Linked DNA regions of Homo sapiens: all the other regions are reported to be linked to region 5. The links are microRNA targets in miRTarBase. Many come from high-throughput screens and were not tested one by one. Region 5 holds a microRNA gene; each other region holds the end of a gene's coding sequence.
The links. Region 5 holds the annotated microRNA hsa-miR-4768-3p (CCAGGAGAUCCAGAGAGAAU, at 1,287-1,306, shown strand). A microRNA usually pairs through its seed, bases 2 to 8, with sites in the 3' UTR of a target mRNA and lowers its output. Matches are read on the target gene's strand: a 7mer-m8 pairs with bases 2 to 8, a 7mer-A1 pairs with bases 2 to 7 and ends in A, and an 8mer does both.

Region 1: miRTarBase lists SLC16A4 as a target of hsa-miR-4768-3p. Seed matches in the 3' UTR shown: 7mer-m8 at 2,597-2,603 and 8mer at 2,479-2,486.
Region 2: miRTarBase lists SIKE1 as a target of hsa-miR-4768-3p. The part of its 3' UTR that is shown has no 7-base or 8-base seed match.
Region 3: the mRNA of EIF3L is a reported target of hsa-miR-4768-3p. Seed matches in the 3' UTR shown: 7mer-m8 at 2,084-2,090.
Region 4: miRTarBase lists MTDH as a target of hsa-miR-4768-3p. The part of its 3' UTR that is shown has no 7-base or 8-base seed match.
Region 6: the mRNA of NID1 is a reported target of hsa-miR-4768-3p. Seed matches in the 3' UTR shown: 8mer at 1,198-1,205 and 8mer at 804-811.
Region 7: the mRNA of AGO3 is a reported target of hsa-miR-4768-3p. Seed matches in the 3' UTR shown: 7mer-A1 at 1,676-1,682 and 7mer-m8 at 1,319-1,325.

The regions. Positions count from the first base shown.
Region 1 is chr1:110,360,935-110,364,026 of GRCh38, forward strand. SLC16A4 (solute carrier family 16 member 4) reads right to left here. Exons shown (of 9, transcript NM_004696.3): 9 at 1,923-2,959. The coding sequence ends at 2,832. Among named protein-coding and RNA genes, the nearest start is that of RBM15, 23 kb to the left of the region's middle.
Region 2 is chr1:114,771,753-114,774,850 of GRCh38, reverse strand. It overlaps SIKE1 (suppressor of IKBKE 1), which reads left to right. Exons shown (of 5, transcript NM_025073.3): 5 at 479-3,098. The coding sequence ends at 580. Among named protein-coding and RNA genes, the nearest start is that of SIKE1, 7.4 kb to the left of the region's middle.
Region 3 is chr22:37,888,246-37,891,245 of GRCh38, reverse strand. It overlaps EIF3L (eukaryotic translation initiation factor 3 subunit L), which reads right to left. Exons shown (of 13, transcript NM_016091.4): 13 at 1,839-2,820. The coding sequence ends at 2,782. Among named protein-coding and RNA genes, the nearest start is that of MICALL1, 17 kb to the left of the region's middle.
Region 4 is chr8:97,724,250-97,727,328 of GRCh38, reverse strand. It overlaps MTDH (metadherin), which reads right to left. Exons shown (of 12, transcript NM_178812.4): 12 at 1-2,729. The coding sequence ends at 2,659. Among named protein-coding and RNA genes, the nearest start is that of LAPTM4B, 50 kb to the left of the region's middle.
Region 5 is chrX:17,424,641-17,427,738 of GRCh38, forward strand. MIR4768 (microRNA 4768) reads left to right here and starts at 1,241; the gene lies at 1,241-1,314. All of the region lies in intron 1 of NHS (NHS actin remodeling regulator), which reads left to right.
Region 6 is chr1:235,975,442-235,978,539 of GRCh38, forward strand. NID1 (nidogen 1) reads right to left here. Exons shown (of 20, transcript NM_002508.3): 20 at 389-2,547. The coding sequence ends at 2,426. Among named protein-coding and RNA genes, the nearest start is that of LINC02768, 4.5 kb to the left of the region's middle.
Region 7 is chr1:36,055,075-36,058,172 of GRCh38, reverse strand. It overlaps AGO3 (argonaute RISC catalytic component 3), which reads right to left. Exons shown (of 19, transcript NM_024852.4): 18 at 3,028-3,098; 19 at 1-2,536. The coding sequence ends at 2,428. Among named protein-coding and RNA genes, the nearest start is that of TEKT2, 27 kb to the left of the region's middle.

The DNA.
Region 1 (3,092 bases), not on the chromosome of region 5:
AGGGCCTATTACTATTGAGTAGGATAAAGAACTTCTCTGTTGCATGAGATTCATAAAACCTAAGAATTCAATTTGGAGTTCTTTAGTTGGTCCCACTTAAAATGTACAGCTTGCTTAGCTAGGAGGAAGGATCAGGTTGCTCTAGGTAGTTGAAGTCCCTTTTAAAAATAATTGCTACTCTAAAGAGAAGAAGGAATTAATGAAAGTGGTTCATAAAATCATTGATTTCTTTTATTTTTTGTTTTGACATGAAAGCAGAATGGACATTAGCAGCTACTATATATGAAGGGCATTTTGCCTGGTATAAGTATATTTTCTTTTTCTTTTTTTTTTTTTTTTTTTTTTTTGAGACGGAGTCTTGCTCTGTTGCCCAGGCTGGAGTGCAGTGGCATGATCTCACTGCCACCTCCACCTCCCGGGTTCAAGCGATTCTCCTGCCTCAGCCTCCTAAGTAGCTGGGACTACAGGCGTGCGCCACTGTGCCCAGCTAATTTTTGTATTTTTAGTAGAGACAGAGTTTCACCATGTTGGCTAGGCTGGTCTTGAACTCCTGACCTCAAGTGATCCACCCGCCTCAGCTCTCAAAGTGCTAGGATTGAAGGTGTGAGCAACCATGCCCGGCACAAGTATATTTTCATGGGTTTAGTCCTCACAGTATATCTGTGAGGTGGGTTGGTGGTATTTTCATTTTACAGAGCAGGAAATTGGGTCTCAGATAAGTTAATTTTAAGTAACTTTCATGAGGGCATATGGTAACAAGTGGCAGAGCTGATATTTATTATTAGTTAACTATTTTTGCTGTTTGTATGTGTAAGGGGTGGTTTTTTTTTTCATTTTTTTTACATGTAAAATGTAAAAATATTAGACATCCACATCTAAATGTAAAAATGATATTTCTTTTTTTTTAAGTCAGAAAACCAGTTTTCTTTTTTCTTTTGCTTTAGTCAGAAAGCCATAAAAACCATATTTAAATAGGATCAACTACTGTTTTTTAACATAACTGAGATTTGAACCGAGATTAATTTGGTTCCAAAGCTTATGCTAGGCCTTGGAGAATACAAAGATGAATGAAACCCCATTCATCTTGTTGATCTTGCAGACTAATGGAAAGGATTGACATGTGAGTTCATGTAGTACTCTGTTAAAAGTTAGATAGGATTCCAGATGAGAATGACAATGCTGGGGAAGATTTTTCCAAAGGAGGTAGCCTTTGAGTGAGTCAGATAGTGAAAAGTGAAATGGTGCCTGGTAGAGAAGGCATACATAGGCAGTGACAGGGTATGGAGCTAAAACCAGTCTTCTAGAGTTTTTCTCTGTAAGTTGTTAATAGACATTTTAAAGCAGAGAGGAATGGAAGAGTGGAATAACGATGATGGTAATAGTTTAAGAAGCATTTTGGACCAGGCATGGAGGCTCACGCCTGTAATCCCACCATTTTGGGAGGCCGAGGCGGGTGGATCACTTGAGGTCAGGAGTTTGAGACCAGTCTGGCCAAGATGGTAAAACCCTGTCTCTATTAAAAATAACAAAAATTGGCTGGGCATGGTGGCCGATGCCGGTGATCCCAGCTGCTTGGGAGGCTGAGGCAGGAGAATAGCTTGAACTCTGGAGGCGGAGTTTGCAGTGAGCTGAGATCATACCACTGCACTCCAGCCTGGGCGACAGAGTGAGACCCTGTCTCAAAAAAAAAAAAAAAAAAGCATTCAGAAGGAGATGCTAAGGGAGGTTGGTGGTATAAGAAACATCTTTTAATTTAAACATATTTCCCATTAAAACCACCTATTCAACTTTCATGTAAATCTTGTAAAGAGACGTTTCAATATTTAGTGTGAATATTTTGTTAATTAGATGTAGCAGAAAAATAACGCTTTGATGGGCAAAATTGCTGTTCAGATGATCTTGAAATAAAGAAGTTTTTAAAGCAATTTTTATATACTTTTTATTATTTAGCAATACATGTTTATCATAGAAATTTAAGAACCTAAGTAATACAAAGAAAGTAAGGATTACCTTTAATTAAGAACCTAAGTAATACAAAGAAAGTAAGGATTACCTTTAATCAATAAACAAAGATAAACTTTTGGAGGGAGCATATACCATTCCAGTCACTAAGTAAGGTTTTAATATTCAGATTCCAGAATTCTGATCAATCAATGGCTATGTTTCACACTTCTTTAAATTAAAAAATTTTCTATCTTTACATATTTTAGTGACTGAATTACCATGGCGTAATTGAGAGTTTGGATTTATTATGGTACATTCCGATTTCTATTTAATACATAAGGTACCTGATTAAAATTTTAGCCTATTTGGTTAAATACTAACAATACAGGTTGCTATTACTCTTGTCTTACTACCAATTAGACATTTCTCAGAATGCTAAAGCAAGAAGGAACCTTAAAAACTTATCTGGCCGCGCCCAGTGGCTCATGCCTGTAATCCCAGCACTTTGGAGGACAAGGCGGGCGGATCACGAGGTCAGGAGATGGAGACCATCCTGGCTAACATGGTGAAACCCCGCCTCTACTAAAAATACAAAAAATTAGCTGGGTGTGGTGGCGTGTGCCTGTAGTCCCAGCTACTTGGGAGGCTGAGGCAGGAGAATCCCTTGAACCCAGGAGGCGGAGATTACAGTGAGCCGAGATTGCGCCACTGCACTCCAGCCTGGGCGAAAGAGCGAGACTCCGTCTCAAAAAAAAAAAAAAAAAAATTGTTTTCCTTCTCATGTTACAAATGTAGATGCGATGTGTTTCTTTCAAGCTTTTGTTTCCAATGACATTAGTTTAGGTTTTCTTTTGTTTAGCTCTCACTTGATTGCAGTCTTCTTTCTTTCAGGTCAGACTGTTTTTCCATCTTTCGGCCAATGGTACAAAAAAAAAGGAAACTGAAGAGAGGAGATAGCATATGCCAGAGAAGTAGAAAGAGCCATTGTATGTCTGGGTATAATCATATAACCAGCCTGGAAGGAAGGAATGATTTCTGTTAGGGAAGGAAATTTTGCCATTAGTAACTCTCAGCCATGAATAGCTCCTCAAAGCAAGGAGCCTCCTGTATTGTGACCCATTTGAACTTAGTGAAGCTTCTTAGCTGCC
Region 2 (3,098 bases), not on the chromosome of region 5:
CCAAGTAGTACCCAGCTACATGCTCAATAAGTAATTTCTTTCCCCCTTTCCTTCCATTTCTCTAGAACTGTAAGATATCCAGGAGAGGAGATTAATCAGAGTGAAACGATTATTAGGAATTTTTTAAATAAAAGAAATAATAGTAAAACTGTGGGAACCAAGAAGAATATAACAGTGAATTCCTTAAATGGAGAGGACCTTGTTTTTTGTTTCTCCTTTGTAATCCTAACACTTGGTATATAGAAATTACTCAGTAAATTACTACTACAAAAGAGTATCATTGCCTACATCCTACATGTAAATGTTTGTTAAATGAATAAAGTAGTATTTAAGGAAATTCTCAACTAGTGGATTTTTTGTTTCCATAAATTTTTTAAAATTAAAATAATGTTTTCTGCTCCTGGCTCAAAATAATGTGTTGTTGTAATGCAGTTGGACAGTAAAAATACCAGAAATAAACATGCCTTTTTTTTTCCAGCTTGAAAATAAGGAACTTCGAGAATTATTGTCCATCAGCAGTGAGTCTCTTCAAGCCAGAAAGGAAAACTCAATGGACACTGCTTCCCAAGCCATCAAATAACTGAACTCTGAATGATGGCTGGAGATTGTCTATCAAGGAAGGAAGTTACTGTCTTCCCATTCAAGTACTGTCCATTAAGTGTCTTGCCTCAGATTTGATTTAATCTTAATTAAAGGTATCAGGTGGCAATTTAGAATTCCAGTCAATATTGGCTGTCCACAGTTCTCAGATGTGTTAATGTGAATACTACATGCTGAATTTCACCATTCCTTTCTCAAAGAGACTACTTTTAATTTTCATTTCTGGGACCTTGATTTATATAAACTATGTTTTCAGTTCTTTGTTATTTTTCACATCTCTGAAACTTTGAGCATTTTTTATAAGCCAGCAATTTATTTTACATAGCATTGTAAAATACACTTCTAGGAAATTTTAGGAAAGATTTAACTGTTTAAATCTATTTGGCATAAACCTTGATTTTTTTTTTCCATTTGACAAAAATAATACAATTCCACAGAACTAGATCAGCAGATTCTCTGATTTGTAATGTCATTCACCTGTGACATTTTAAGTCTCTCTGGTGCTAAGAATTGGCACTTTATAGCCTGGTGCCTTTACTTTTAATTTGAGAGAACCTACTGCTAGTCCCAGGAAACACACTTGGAAATAAGTCAGCTATTTTTTTTGCCCAGTGATGCTATAGTTGTCATATTGTCCAAAGTTCATATTGTTCAAAGCTGAGGAGCTTGTCCTGTGTATGTGAATGCACACATGTGCACTTAGTTCAAATACTAAAAGTAGCTTTTATTAAATATAATCAGCCAAAAACACACACAAAATAAAAAAAACAAATATAAGTAGTCAGTTTTTCAATGTTATCCTACTAGTTCTACATTCTATTTTAATTTTTATACAATTTCCATTTTATAGTTAAGAACCATCACTTACTTGGATTGGATGTCTTTCATTCCTAGCACTAATAGTTGGCTTTCTTTTTTTTTGTTTACATAGAAGCAGGGTTTTTTTTTATCTTTTTTCTTTTTTTTTGTTTAAGCTATATAAAAAGGTGAGGAAGCAGTTTTGTTACCTAATGAAAATTATTACACTCATAATGCTGTGTAGGCAACATTGAGATTCAAATGCCCAGTGGTCAACTGGGTTCACTCATCAACTCATTCCCGTCCCAGTTTACTCACATTTCAAATTTATAAATTTCTTCATGTTATACTATTCTATTTAGATTTGCCCAGAATTAGTTGAAATAATGCTAAACCTGTCAATATTTTCCAGTAACATTAAGCACCATACTGCATGGGAGAGACACAGTACTAAAAAGAGTTGTTAGTGCTTTATGTGAGTGATATTTCTTTCGTAATGCTATAAAGAACTACAGTTAAAATAACAAAATATTTTAAAGATGTCCTAAAAGCATCTGATCCCAGTAATAACTAATGGATGTCATCTAGAGCAGTGGGTGTTAATGAATAGGTATATGTCATTTAAGAATTTTTCAAATTTCTGTTTGATATCCTGCATAGAATTTGACAAAAAAAACACTTCCAAGTGTGAGCATTTTTTATTTCATTTCCCAAGAGTAAGTAAGTAACTATTAGCCCAGCCATCTGCCTCGAAGTATACCTTAAGTGACCCCATAAATCCATTCAAGAGGCAGGTACTCTATACCATTTGGCAGCCACGGCCAAACCTACCATGGCCAGATTTCAGTGAAAATGATGAAGTAATCAAATCAAGGTATAATATGGTGTCCCTTTATGTGCTTTATGTTCCTTTAGAGCTGTTTATAAAGTTCTTTATATCTCAAGTGTTAGGATAAATCGACATACTAACTTTTCCCCCTGCAAAATTAAAAGCCTGAGGTACAAGTCTAAGAAGCTTTTAGTGCTCTACATAATATAAATTCTGGCTGGTGTTAATGCTATGAAGATAATATGTAGTTAGAAAATTGAGTCGGGGAGGAATGCTCTTCATTTTAAGTGGATTTTAAAGTTTCTCCTTGAGTGGATGAAGAACTTGCCTGGTTTGCAAAAATCTTAGTTCAAAATTATATTTTCTAACAAAAACTGCATTTTGAGAAGATAAGCTAATTTTACTCAGTAGTAAGTCAAATGAGGAAGTGCAGAGGGTTTTTTTACATATATATAGCAACCTTGTCAAGTGGTCCTCACAAGAGTCATAAATACTTTGTAATTAGCACAGTATATTCAGCAGTGTATAACTCTACAAATAGTACCTTATATTAGTGTAGTATTATATCAATATCTTATGTATAATTCTTATATTAATACCTTATGCATAATTGGATTCAAACATTGAAGGTCTATTTTAGTGTTCTTCAAAATGTGCTTCCCTGACCTACTGAAATAGAAACTTGGTGATGAAGTTCAAGAATTTGTATTCTAATCATCTCAAACAATTCCTAAAGACACTGATTTTAAAATATCTAGTCTAGGCCCCATTGTGTAATAGTTAGCACTCTAAAAGATGAAAAAGAAAATAGTCTATGTGCCAACCACTTCATTAGTACTTATGAATTTAAAAATGAAAAAGTCTGGTACAG
Region 3 (3,000 bases), not on the chromosome of region 5:
CTATGGGAGGCTGAGGCAGGCAGATCACCTGAGGTCAGGAGTTTGAGACTAGCCTGGCCAACATGGCAAAATACCATCTCTACTAAAAAAATATAAAAATTAGCAAGGTGTGGTCGTGGGTGCCTGTAGTCCCAGCTACTCAGGAGGCTGAGGCAGGAGAAATGGTGCCTGTAGTCCCAGCTACTCAGGAGGCTGAGGCAGGAGAATCTCTTGAACCCAGAAGGTGGAGGTTGCAGTGAGCTGAGATTGCACCACTGCACTCCAGCCTGGGCGACAGAGCGAGATTCCATCTCAAAAACAAAAACAAAAACAAAACAAAGAAGGCCGGGCACTGTGGCTCATGCCTGTAATCCCAGCACTTTGGGAGGCCGAGATGGGTGATCATCTGAGGTCAGGAGTTTGAGACCCACCTGACCAACATGGTGAAACCCAGTCTCTACTGAAAATACAAAAAGCCAGGCGCAGTGGCTCACGCCTATAATCCCAGCACTTTGGGAGGCTGAGGCAGGCAGATCACCTGAGGTCAGGAGTTCGAGACTAGCCTGGCCAACATCGCGAAACCTCGTCTCTATTAAAACTACAAACATTAGCCAGGCGTGGTGGCGTGCACCTGTAGTCCCAGCTACTTGGGAGGCTGAGGCAGGAGAACCGCTTGAACCCCGGAGGCGGAGGTTGCAGTGAGCCGAGATCGCGCCATTGCACTCCAGCCTGGGCAATAAGATCAAAACTCTGTCTCAAAAAAATAAACAAAAATAAAAATACAAAAAATTAGCCAGGCATGGTGGCATGCAACTACTTGGGAGGCTGAGGTAGAATAGCTTGAACCTGGGAGGCAGACGTTGCAGTGAACAGAGATCGTGCCACTGCATGCCAGCCAAACAAATAAGGTCATGCTGATGGCATCCAGGGCTTAGGATATGGACATGTCTTCTTGGGAACCACCATTCAGTTCCCAATAATAATTATCAAACCAATGGGGAAAAAGAGCATACTGAAAAGCTTACGAATTCCAAGTGTGGGGAAACAGTAACTGAACATCCATTATAGGCCAGGCACTGCACTGGGCACTCAAAATAGCATTCTCATTTATTCGTCACCACTGCCCAGTGAGCCAGGTTCTGCTACACTTATTTTTTATTTTTTTTAGACGGAGTCTCGCTCTGTAACCCAGGCTGGGGTCCAGCGGCACGATCTCTTGGCTCACTGCAAGCTCCGCCTCCCGGGTTCACGCCATTCTCCTGCCTCAGCCTCCCGAGTAGCTGGGACTACAGGCGCCCGCCACCACGCCCGGCTAATTTTTTTGTATTTTTAATAGAGACAGGGTTTCGCCATGTTAGCCAGGATGGTCTCGATCTCCTTGACCTTGTGATCCGCCCGCCTCGGCCTCCCAGTGCTGGGATTACAGGCGTGAGCCACCGCGCCTGGCCTGCTAACCTTATTTTATATACAAGGAACCAGGCAGAGATGTGAGACAACTTGCAAGCAGGGGCTTCCAGTCCAAGTACCCACTATAGGGTGACAGGCATAGCATTAATACTGTGGGTAGGCAGGAAACCATTTAGCTCAGCTCCAGCAGCTGCCTAATGTGACCTTGATCAAGTCACTAACTACTGTGGGTTCATTTCCTCATCAATAAGATGAGGAACTACTACTAAACCTGAGTTGTAAGGTGTAAGTAATGTATATGGATCCCTCTTTGCACAGTTCCTGGCAGTAGGAGGTGTTCAATAGTTTCCTTCCAGGACCCAGCACTGCCACAAATATGTCATGAAAATTATAGGTCATTTAAAGTTCATAGGATCTTGTGACGCACAAACAAAATACTGAACGTGAAAATGTCCTGTAAACCAAATATACTGCTTTATGAACAAGAGGGATTTAAGAATTCAATTTAGGGCTGGGCACGGTGGCTCACGCCTGTAATCCCAGTACTTTAGGAGGCAGAGATGGGCAGATCACGAGGTCAGGAAATCTGAGACCATCCTGGCTAACACGGTGAAACCCCATCTCTACTAAAAAATACAAAAAATTGGCCGGGCATGGTGGCGGGTGCCTGTAGTCCCAGCTACTTGGGAGGCTGAGGCAGGAGAATGGCAGGAACCTGGGAGGTGGAGCTTGCAGTGAGCCGAGATCGCGCCAGTACACTCCAACCTGGGCGACAGAGTGAGACTCCGTCTAAAAAAAAACAAAAAGATTTTGAATTTAGGCGGGGCGTGGTGGCTCATGCCTGTAATCCTAGCACATTTTGGGAGGCCAAGGCAGGCGAATCACTTGAGGCCAGGAGTTCGAGACCAGCCTGGCCAACATGGTAAAACCCATCTCTACTGAGAATACAAAAATTAGCTGAGTGTGGTGGCACACGCCTGTAATCCCAGCTACTTGGAAGGCTGAGGCAGAACTGCTTGAACCTGGGCAGCGGAGGATGCAACGAACTGAGATCACGCTACTGCACTCCAGCCTGGGAGACAGAGTGAGACTCCATCTCAAAAGCACAAAATAAAAATAACTCAATTTAAACACTAACAACTGATGTATCCTGAAAGCATCAGGACACATGGGAAATGTATTACTGCCACAACCCACAAATTCTCTCCTACAATAATGAGACGACAAATCTGGCTCCAAAGATCCTTTACTGAGATCCACTTGAAACACTTCGGTCCTTAACTTGTTAACTGAGTTGACAGGCTGATGGCTGATCTAGGTAAAGGTTTCACGGTAGCAAAAACACTTCCTGCCTATAATACATCAAAACAGGTTCCTGAATGTGTGTGAATATCATCAAGGTCTCTGTCCCATCTTCTTCAGGGTTCGATTAAGCTAGAAGAGAAAGAAAAGCAAAGTTACATACGGGGATTTCCCCAACCCCTTTCCTACAGTGTGTATGATCACTAGGTCAGATTCCCAGCTGCCCCTCTGAAGCCAAGAAAGGAAGTTTCTGATGTGGGTGTCCACTATGTGTGTGCAAAGCCGTGACATTCATATGGCCCTGCACAGTTC
Region 4 (3,079 bases), not on the chromosome of region 5:
GGGGTTTCACCATATTGGCCAGGCTGGTCTCAAACTCCTGACCTCAGGTGATCCACCTGCCTCAGCCTCCCAAAGTGCTAGGATTACAGGCGTGAGCCACCGTGCCAGAAACTGTTTTTATGTCACATAAAGATCTATGAAACAAGGTAAAAGGTAATTAAAATACTTTGTGACAGAGTTTGCACCTCATGCATGTGAAAGAGAATGTAATTAATTTTATCATTTATATAGCTGCCATCTTTTTTTTTTTTTTGAGACGGAGTCTCCTTCTGTTGCCCAGGCTGGAGTGCAGTGGCACGATCTTGGCTTTGCAAACTCCGTCTCCTGGGTTCAAATGATTCTCTGCCTTAGCCTCCTGAGTAGCTGGGATTACAGGAGCCCACCACCACACCCAGCTAATTTTTTTTTTTGTATTTTTAGTAAAGATGGGGTTTCACCCTCTTGGCCAGGCTGGTCTTGAACTCCTGACCTCGTGATCCACCTGCCTCGGCCTCCCAAAGTGCTGGGATTACAGACGTGAGCCACTGCACCCGGCCAGCTGCCATCTCTTAAAACAAAATCCAAGTCCTAGCTCTTGAGCCATAAAGAAGAAATAGAGGTATCTCTATACTGGATCCACCTCAACTTAGCAACGCATCTCTGCATCTCCACAATGCCATTCTCCTCAAAACATCTGCTGTCTTTAACATCTGGCATAGGTGGTAGAATGGGGAGATACTAGGCTGCAGAAATAAAATCCAACGTTTGACAAAGCCAACAGAATTTTGAGATAAAGAAATGGTGAGGTAGAGTTGAGAGAGTTCAATTATATTGTTGAGCACAGACCATTTGGCACATTCTAAAATTAGATTCCCTATCAACTTCTCCTTTGTGGTACCTTTACAAAATGCTGACACCTTAGGAATCCTCCAACACCTATGTAAAGCTAACAGAATAAAGTCATTTGAAGAAATTCATCCTTGGCTCTTTAGCTATTATCTACCCCCATATTGAAGCAAATAAAAAACAATGCTATCCATTTGCTGAATTTATTTAAACAAGTCAATTTAGAAATACCATAGAATTAAACAAAACTTCTGACATGTAAACATACTGCCATGTTCCTGAAACAGATGTTAACACCTGATAAAAGTTAATAATCTCTTGTTAGGAAAGCTGTCCATTAATAAGGCCAGTCTTCAGCAAAACTAAAACCATTTTGTTCGTTTAGCTTTCCTAGTCTGACAACGCAATACTGTTGAACCACAGTCAAATATAATGACAACATTGGATGGATAGATCAGTACCATTGGTTACAGCTGTTAAACAGGTTCGTTCTTGGCGCCACATAAAAACAAGCCAATCACATCGAATAAATCATGGCTTTTTTTTCTTTATCACAATTCACTAAGTGATGTTAATTATGGTCCTTGTCAAACACGTTTGGTAAAGGCTATTTACAGTGTACATGGCTGAGCATGCACTATTTATAGTTACAAAGATACCTGCCAGTTTATTACAATAGAATTACACAGTGCCTGAAAATGGTGAAACATCTCACACATCATTTAAATCAATATAATTTCAAGCAGGAAACGTTCCTTATTTGACCACAATTGCAATAATTACATGAAAATTCTTATAAAAACATGAATCTCCTTCAAGAAATTGATGCATATTCTACGCACTACAGGTTAAGGCAGTAAAAAAATGTATTCCTGATAACTGGAGGTGTTGACAATGTCAATTAAAGCTGTCTGACTCTAGTTTTTCATTCTCCATCATATACCAAAAGTTTGTGAATGATTTCATTTTTAAAGTCAACAAAGTATTAGTAACTAAGAAGAGTTGAAGCTGGAAAAAAGTAATTGCTAGGGAAGGGAAAAATGTAAATTGGATTTTGCCTGAAAGTTTTCAAATCATAAACAATAGCATTATTTATGAGTCTAAGCCTTAAATGTATAAAACAAATACATATAGTTCACTTTTCTTAATTTAAAATATACTGTACTTTGAACAATTCAAGTAATGTAAGACTATCAAAAATAACTTCATAAGCCATACACAAGTGTCAACTGCATTTTCAGTATTTTAAGAACTTTTTAAAAATTGTAAACTAAACCATGACAGTTTAGTTAAACAAATGATAAATGACTTTTTATTTGCACTTGTGATTTCTTTAATACAAATTGCTACCAACAAATATGTAAAGATATGGCAGGTTATGCATTTGATCAAAGCACTTTGATTTAAGCATAAAACAGATTCAAATGGTACAAGTTCTGTGCATAAGATCCAAGGAATTGCTTACTAATCTGTAGGCAACCCTCTTTCTAATCAGAATCCTTTATTCCTCGGCTGCAGATGAGATAGGGCACAATCTGTTGTAAACAGGGCACTGTTGTTAAACCAGGATAATATTCTTAAATTAAGATCGTTCTTGTTCTATTAAAAAGACTTTCCCAAGTGTCTTCCATCACTGAGTATATTCTGCTGACCTCTTAATTTCATAAATTAACTTTCTTTTGATTCCATTTTTATGGTGGTGTCCGCAGTTTTGTTTTAAAAATTGGTTTAAATTTATATAAAACTCTGTACATGTTCACAAATTATTGCATAAACAGCATAATCTTCAAGACAAGTGTTTGCAAACACATGTCCAATTCAGGAAAAAAAATTTCACGTTTCTCGTCTGGCTTTTTTCTTCTTTTTTATTTGTTTGGGAGATTCCCAGCTAGTTTCAGACTTGGCTAAAAAAGAAAAGGGGGAAAACGAAGAAAAAAATTAGGAGGATGGTAAATACTGTTACGTCTCAATAATATAAAAGTAGTAACTATGAAACAATGTTTTAAAATACTCAAATTTTATGTTTAAGTTTTCAAGCCCTCGTTATATATTTTAAGTTATTCTATGTCTTCTTCCCTCCTTTCCTTTCAATGGTATTATTAGGTTGAACTATATGGAACTGCTGATATTCAACCAGTTTTGACCCAAAAAAACTGTTATTTAATATGGCTCAACCTAACTAATAAAAGAGAAAAATGGGTAAAATGGATACTAAAGGTAGCTGAAGAGAGTAAAGGAGGAAAAAAAGCATAGA
Region 5 (3,098 bases):
ATAGTACCAGGTTTACTCAATCATTTGTTAGTTTGCTTGTTATCTTAAAAAATTCTATAAAATTCTTTTGAGAAGTTTCTCTGCTCATTGATCTTGAAAATCTCCTTGCTTTAGAGAATGGATGTGCTCCTCATATGCTAAGGATAAACCAGATTTTGGTAAATCAGGTTATCTTAGGGGTCCCAGGTGAGTTTGCCATTTTAACGATGCTTAGAGTGAATCCTTGTATAAGGGAAAGTATCTTGTATATTCTGTATCCTTTAGGAACTCACGTCTGTTGACTTTATCAGATGTTGGGGTGGTGGTGAGGCTAAAGACCAATAGGCGACATATGGCAGGATCTTCCCTCCAAGTGACCCTCTGGAAAGGGCTATACTTACTTAATTTTGGTGGAGCTCATCATAGGGTCAGGAAACCAGGGAGAAAGCTGAGCAACTGGTATTTATAGATCTTTCTCTTTAAATCAGGTTTGCTCATGATTTGTCTGGTCTTTATTCTTCTCCATGTCTGAAACTGAGTTCCTTGGATTCCCTTCTCTTCAAAGCCCTCTTGGCAACCTTCTGAGGAATGGCAGAGTTCATTCTGATCCACGTCCGGTGAGCGTAGCTCAACCGTGATGGAGCTTGACCTGTCAAATTCACAGAAAAATGTCCGTTACATATTCCAGCTGTTCCTTAAACATGCTCCCTAAGAGCTAGTTCCATTTGTTAGCTGTCAGAACGATGTGGAGGAATTGCTCCAGACCCTTGGATGTCATCAACCACTTTTGTTTATACACCAGTTATTTTCTCTATTAGCAAATCAATGTTTGGCAAAAAGAAAGCACAGGCTAAGAACTTTTCCTGATGAGTTGCTGCCCCAGCCTTGGAACTCTTCTCAGCCAAAAAAAAAAAAAAAAAAAAAAAAAAAAAAAAAAAAAAAAAAAAAAAAAGAAAGAAAGAAAGAAAGAAAGAAATTGAGGAGGAATTCAGTTTTACATGTTTTCCTTCCTGCTTACATGAACAGAGGAGGCCTACCTGAAGCTGAATCCAAGCACTGCCTTTGACGTTGGTAAAGATGGGGCTCTGAGCTCACATATCACCTTGGAAACTGGATCCTGTTACTGCTGGGAAAGGAATGCTTGGTTGCCAAAAGCATTAAGATAGGGAATGTGGATTCCACCTCTCAGTGCTCCTGCCTTGGATCAATTAGGTAGGATACTACCCAGAGATACAGACATGATGGACCAAGTAACTTCTCCAAACTTTGATTCTCTCTGGATCCCATGGATATGGGAACTGTGATGTCCAGGAGATCCAGAGAGAATCAGAGTTTCAGTGAGTGAAACCTAGAGTGTGTGCTGCTAGGATTTTCCTCATAAACCTGGGTGTTTTATTCTTGTGGGCCAGAAAGTTATTTCATTCCTAAACCCGTGATGTAGACTTCTCAGAAATTCCAGTGGTGTGGAGGATCCAGCTTCTATCAGCTCACAAGAGCTGATTGCACATATCTCTCCCCAACTGCTGTTCAGTGGCATCAAGTTGGTAGCTTGAAATCTGCCATGATGAGAGTATTTACACTATAGAAATTGGCAAATATGGCAAATAAGGGTCCCCACCACCCATGCTTGTGAAACATCTTCCAGCACACCAAGGAAATTATCCTAACACGTAACATCACTTATGGGGGCTGTTTAGCTTCAGGGGAGGAAATCCCCTTTGCTCTGATCTCATTGTGTGTACCTGCTTTGCATAGGCAGACTACCCCTTGTTCTCTCATCTATTAAACTCGACCTGAGAGAGAGCTTCATGAGATGGGTTGTGTGACAGGAGATCACTAGGGTAATGAGTCTGTTCCTTTCGCTGCTCAGCTATATGACAGGTTATTTTACCTCTCTAGGCCTCAGCTTCCTCTTCACTATAATAAAAGTAATTTAGATCATTAAATAATTGCTAAGTTTCCTTGTAGCTTCGACATTCTGCAATTTGATGAGTGCTTGGCTGCTGGAAAATGTCATGTGTTTCAAAGGCTTGGGGCACATGCACATCATTCACAGTGACCAGCTGAGCTCTCTCATTTTCTTTCTGGATCTTGGACTCCCAGTAATTCTACTTTTATCTGGACTTCTATCTTCAGCATGAATGAGCAGGGTGCCTCTAAGTGAGAAGCATAATTGATTAGTTCCTTCCATCTGGGGGTGTCAAAGCACTTTCAAGTCAGTAGTCAGTATCCATCATGGTTGCTCTGCAGGGAAGACTGCCTGAGAGTGCCTGTTTTGCAAGGGACATATCACAGTGGTGGACCAAGGACCCAGAATTATTGACTTGTCTTTTAATCAGAAAAGGGGCTACTTCCTGGTCTTAAAGAAGTTCCAGCTTTGAGATTAATCTGCTGTCTATAACCCCAGATCACTTGGCATGCTCGGCCTGGCTGACCTGCTGACAGAACTTGATATATTTCCCATCTCTCTGACATGGAGATAAACCTGAATAGGATTTTGCTAGTTCAGAGGATTTGGGGATACATGTTTAGGTAAAGTTTTCCTATAAAATTCCTTAAAAGAGGTGTGGTGTGGGTTTTTGTTGGGAATTGAGGCTACACTTAATGGAATGTGGAAGAGACCAAATCCACCTTTATGGGGTGCCTGGATGGAAAAGGTGTACTGATAGGAAGTTGGGACTGACCACAGACTTGGGCTGCTTTGTGATTTTGCTTACAGTCTTGCCAAGACCTAGCATCTGCCAAAATACGTGTCTCTGGGCCCTCTCTACCGAAATGTACACATTGACATGCACCAACTCATGCCGCTGTTGTTATGATTGTGTTTATGAAGCCATTTACTCTTGAATCAAGAACCTGAGTGACTTGCTGAGTGTTTGTAGGTTTATTGTCCACTCTGCCAGCTGACTGGGCTGTGTGTGTTCAATGGCTGAAGCCATGATTCCCACAGCTGAAGGTTTGGTCCATTGAGTCTGCCACCATAAAGCACAAGCTATGTGAAGGGCTGGAAAAGAAATAAATTCTTCTGGGATTAACTCCAAAGCAGAAGTACAGTTCTGTCTTGCACAGATAATAGAGGCTGGGTTCAAACTTCTTGGGGTCAGACTGCCAGCTGTGAC
Region 6 (3,098 bases), not on the chromosome of region 5:
TCAAACAATCCTCCCACCTCAGCCTCCTGAGTAGTTGGGACTACAGGTGTGTGCCACCATGCCCAGCTAATTTTTTTTTTTGATGTTTTGCAGAGATGGAGTCTCCCTGTATTGCCCAAACTGGTCTCAAACTCCTGGCCTCAAGTGATCCACCCACCTTGGCCTCCTAAAGTGTTGGGATTACAGGTGTGAGACACTGCACTCATTTTTAGGTAAATTACAACCCCTAAGGTTTTTTGTGGTTGAGAAACATACTAGCTCTCATAATACTGGGATAAGAGTTTCTGGGCTCCACAGGTTTTGCAGATTATTAAGTGGCTGTCTGTCTGTCTATCATGAATCAGCCTCCCAACATTAAATCTCTTCATTCAGAAAAGATAGAGGAAGATTTTCTTTTTTAAAAAAAGTTTATTTTCCACACTATTTGTACAGCTGTAAACTCAAGGAATCATCCAATACTTGTACAAATCTGGGAGAACAGTTAATAAGCACCTTCAGTGGTTTCCACAGTTTAAGAATTTACCATTAAAAAATTTTAGAATAAATCTAATAAAATGAATAAAATAGTTATAAAAATCATACAAAATCATGATGAACATTTGATATAGAGGGTTTAATATGAAACGATAAATACAAAAAGTGAGACTAATTTATGGATTTGGGCTACGTAAAAGACCTACATGGTCCTCGAATCTTGTGATTCTTGGGGCTATATTTGCCTCTCAAGACAAACTCCAATTATTCAAGGAAGACTTTCTTTCAATTCAGGTTCCAATGTACTGCAGAAGCAAGTGAGGACAAAGTCAGGAGAAGGTGGGGCAGAGAGGCTGAGTGTACTGGGGTTTGAGGAAAAGAGGAGAGACTCTTTTCCCCAAAGAGAGTATCAGGCAAATTCTTCCATGTTCTCAAGTATAAGTGGTCTTTGGCAAAATGTACCATTTTCTTTTTGGAGTTACTTAAGAGTTTTACTTATTGCTGTTCTTAAATTCCTTCCCCTACCACTTCCTCTTGGGCTTTTTTATTTCTCTTGTTGATCAATCTCTTTTTTGTGATACTTTTCATTGAATCATCTCGACTCCTTTATCCCATCCTTTACTGACTCAAACTCCTTATGCTGAACTTTTCAATCCAAAATTTCTATTGTTTTAGGACTCTGGGAAGCAGTTGATAAAAAGATAACACGAGCTACTGATATGGTCAGGAGATGTTTTCTAAACAAATTGTAGAAATATAAACATGAAATGTGGCAATGATCCCTTTAATTAGATCATTGAGCAATAAAGGATATGAACCATTAGTATAAATATTCAATTCAGTCTTTCCGGATTGTGTTGTTAGATAAGAATACATCCAAAAAGGGCCACAGATCGAGGGAGAAACCAAGGAGGGGTGAGGTCATGGTTGAGTGTAAATTGGTTCTGTCATGTGGAGGCCGGAGGTGAGGGACTGTGGTGGGACATCATCTGGTGCCAGCCCCATCCTGTACCTCAGATAGGTCTCCGTGAAAAGGAGGGACATCAGTGCAAGCAGTGGGGCTAAAGACCAGCACAGCAACAGAGACTAGAACCTTGGATGCAAGTATTTTGGGCAAAGAGGAATAATTAGTAATCTTTGGTATAATTTAAGGCACATCAAAAAAATCCCCTATTCTCAAATATCTGACCTACACCTTGAAATTCCTACCATTGGACATTCTTTTGATTTAAGCCTTTAACTAACAAATGCCAATATCCTACTGCTCAAATATTGACATTCTATCTGGGAGGGGCTGCTCATTATCATCCACCAAATGCCCATAGATCTCTAGGACAGGGTAGGTTTTGATGAAAAAGCAGCGCATGAATATTATAATGGGGGTCTTAGACAAGATGATGATGGTGAGGAACTGAGGAGTAAAACTATAGGACTATAATAAAGAAGAAATTCAGAGCACCAAAACAAAACATTAAGGAATGCTAATTTCCTCCTTAACTCCCAACTTTTCCTAGTCAGGCCCCGGCTCATAGGTCAAGGAGCTGACAGGACGGTGGGTACCTCAAAGCGAGGCTGAGCTCATAAGGCCACAGGGAAGGGTGCAACTCAAATTTGGGAGGTTCTGTTCACCACTGGGGGGCTAGTATTGGGAAAAGGTCCTAGGACACTGGGATGGGCATGTAATCCTCACTCAGGGGTGTATAAGTCTGTCTGAGGGTTGGGGGTAGGGGTGGAGGGTTCTGTCCTTGTGTAGGGGTGGAGACTTTTCTATTAGAGAAGTCCAGGGTGCATGTTTTGGGGAACAGTGAGGGAAAAGTTGTTGGGGCTCAGGCTGGGCTGGGTCTGGGCCTAGTGGCCACTCAGCCAGAGGACACTTTTCAATCTGGACCAAGTTGCTTCAAGTAGAGTGTTGCTGTGAAATACTTGGAAAGGAAATAAGGCACTCTTGTCTTCATTTCTGTTCGATACAGTCAACTCCCAAGGTGTTGTCAGGGCAACGGCAGGTCCTGCTCCCTGGGGTGGCCAAGCATAGGTGGGTGCAGCCGCCATTGTTCACTGAGCAGTAGTTATGGCCTGGAAAAGGCAGAAATCAGTTCAATAGCCCTCTCTCTGATCTGACTCCATAGCCATTTAAGATAGTGGGCTCCTTCTTGTGTGTGATCCCCCTTTTAGTTTCCTTGAAGCCATGCTAGGAAGGCTTCAGGAGAATGGGGACACTGTGCTAGGCAGTCAGCTGAGCTGATCCATTGTTTGTTTTATCAGCATTAAACCAGACACAAACACTGATTCCCAACTTGGGGGTTATGCAGATTTTCTACTAAGGCTATTAAACAGATCTCAGGGGGAAGTTCTCCAGCTCTGATTATAACATAGAATTGGAATTTTAAAGTGCAAAGTTCTTTTTATGTAGCTTGCACTCCTAGCTTCACACTGACAGAAGAAGATGAGGGAAGCTGAGAAGGAAAGTGGGTGAGGGGAGAGGCCTTCAAGAGGCAGCATAGCATAGACTCCAGGGCCAGGCTGCCTGGACTTGCCCCTGTGAGCTGTGTGACTTGGAGCAAGTTGCTTCAGTTTGCTTATTTATGAAATGAACATAATAATAGTACCTACCTCACAGGGTTGCT
Region 7 (3,098 bases), not on the chromosome of region 5:
CATTTTCCTGATTCATTTTAGTAAATGAAAATGGGCATCTAGCCAATATGATTCTTCAATAAACACAATCTATTTGCAAATAATTTAAATATGTTAAGCTATTCACAATTATATAAAAGTTCAACTTTATTTCTAATATTCAAGTTGGACTCATTTAGGCAATTTCACTTCATTTTCATTATGATTTTTTTTTCTTTTGAGACGGAGTTTTGGTTTTGTTGCCCAGGCTGGAGTGCAATGGTGCAGTCTTGGCTCACTGTAACTTCCGCCTCCTAGGTTCAAGCAATCCTGCCTCAGCCTCCCGAGTAGCTGGGATTAGAGGTGCCCACTACCACGCCCAGCTAATTTTTGTATTTTTAGTAGAGACGGGGTTTCACCACGTTGGCCAGGCTGGTCTCAAACTCCTGAGCTCCGGTGATATACCTGTCTCAGCCTCCCAAAGTGCTAGGATTACAGGCATGAGCCACCGCGTCCAGCCTTTTATCATGATGAATTTTAAAAGATATGCTTTAAAACTGAAAATTACAAAACTTTCCTTCTGAAATTAAGGCTGTATTCTTTGCCCTTTTAAACTATGGAGGTGCCTGTTCCTCCTACTATCCATGGTAAAGATGCAGACACAACTTTCCTTTAAAACTGCTTATTGCACTAAAAGATAGCAAAAACAAGTTGTCAGTTCTTAAAATAAACATGATTATATTTCTATAAAAGATGCTGCCAATACAATTCTATAATTATTAAAGCACTATTCTAATAAATATAAAAGAAAAGGAAGCTATACTTCCAAACACATACATATGTGTTTATATACACACACATACATATATATATATAAAAAATATATGAAAATCACATTAAGGTATGAGAGGCAGCAAGTAAACTATCAAAAAACAAAACAAAAAAATCCCTCAACAAACTCTTCTCTCTACTCAATTTCAGAGGTCTCAACCCTACAGAGCTCTAATCTTTTAAAATATTTACCCTTTATAAAACCTTTAAAGAATTTCCATGTATAACCCATAGAAACAGAAGGCTTCAGAATACACATCACTTACCAGAGAGAAAGTTACAACTTCTGACAGGTTTTATATTTATAGCAGCTTTAACAAACTCACTAAAGAAAAAGAATAGTAGGCCGGGTGCGGTGGCTCATGCCTGTAATCCCAGCACTTTGGGAGGTCGAGGCGGGTGGATCACAAGGTCAAGAGATCGAGACCATCCTGGCCAACACGGTGAAACCCCGTCTCTACTAAAAATACAAAAATTAGCTGGGTGTGGTGGCACATGCCTGTAAACCCAGCTACTCGGGAGGCTGAGGCAGGAGAATTGCTTGAACCCGAGAGGCGGAAGTTGCAGTGAGCCGAGATCTCGCCACTGCACTCCAGCCTGGTGACAGAGCGAGGCTCTGTCTCATTAAAAAAAAAAAAGAAAGAAAAGAAAAAGAAAAAAGAAAAAGAATAGTTCAGGTTGCTACTGCTTATATACAAATTGCGCAAATGGTAAATGTATGTTCTGAGTGGGAGGGGAGAGACGCACTCTCACAGAAAGTTATTTTATGTATATATATGTGTGTGTCTGTGTCTGTGTATGTATGTATACATATATATATAAAATTTTGTTTCTTAAGACAGCAATATCAAGAGTTGAGAACTCAGAATTGTGTATGAGATAGGAGTCAGGAGTAGGGTATGCAAAATAAAAGTAGAATTCTAGTTTGCCATATTTTATATTCAAACGAACCAGATACATCAACATTTGAATGTCACTGGTAGGACTGGGAAAAAAATGTAGGTGATGAAGGCAAGGGAAATAGAGAAATAAAGGCGGTAGTGGGGGTAGAATAAAAGGGAAAGAAAATTCCCCAATGGAATGAACTCTAAAATATATAACAGACACATATATATCTATTATCAATCCAGATCTAGATATATATGCATATGAAGTATGGATGTATATATTTTAAAAATACACAGACACCTTTTACAAGAATATATGAATGCACATTAATTTTTTGCACACATAATTCTGAAAAATCACTTTGATTATTCATGAAGGTGTGTATTTTTTAAACCATCATTTACTTTTTCTTTACTTTTTTTTGCAAAGATAGTTGTGCTGCCAAGCAACTTGAGGTAAAGGCATTAAAAGGGTTAGACTACAAGAAATGAAAACAAAACAATTGCGATACTTCCTATAGGAGACCGCACAAAAAGCAGTTGGCTGGTTTCATATTGCATAATGATGCTGTGTTCCTTGATGAAGTAAACAATCTTCCTTGTATTAACATAAGGATCAGACCTTGGCCCCCACACAGTGTTGGTTTCTGTATGGCTGGAGGTGTCCTTACTCAATTGACTTCACTGGAAACATACGTTGTATGTCAATTCATCTTTCAGTACTTCCTCTCAGAGAATATACTTGGACTATTTAAGCGAAGTACATTGTGCGTAAGGTATCTTGGTGAATCTGTACAGCCTTGGCAAGAGCTTGTGGATCTCGCCCATTGCTTTGTCCTGAAACGTGACTTCCTTCAGCACTGTAAGAGAAGTGGCAATGAACACAAAAACAAACTTTCTATTCTGATGTAATAATTCCGAAAAATACTATTTGTTGTAGAAAATTTCAAAATTATTAACAAATAAGAGACTGGTGTAACAATCTATGTGTCCATCACTCAGCTTCAATCACTATTAACTCAAGGCCAATTTTGTTTTACTTCTCTCACCTCCCCAGAATTAATTAGAAGCAAACCTAGATATCGTATCATTTTGTCTATCTGTCTGAATGTATCACTTTATTACCAATAATCTCTCCTTTGAATTAATGTAGTAAAACAACTAAGTTACTACATGATTCTATTACTAATGAGCCTAGACAATATATTTCAATAGGAAACCTTGGGCAGTCAGTTCTGTCATCATTTTTCACATGGATCACTGACTCCGCTAATAGCTTGTGGAACTTGAAAATCCTACCATGCAGACAATATTGGGATTTGGGTGAGAACCTGTTATGCTTTTATATTACCTGTCATGTTCTTTGTCCACAAGATGATATCTGGCTCTAAATGCTACCAGGTGAGCATAATACGCTGGTGC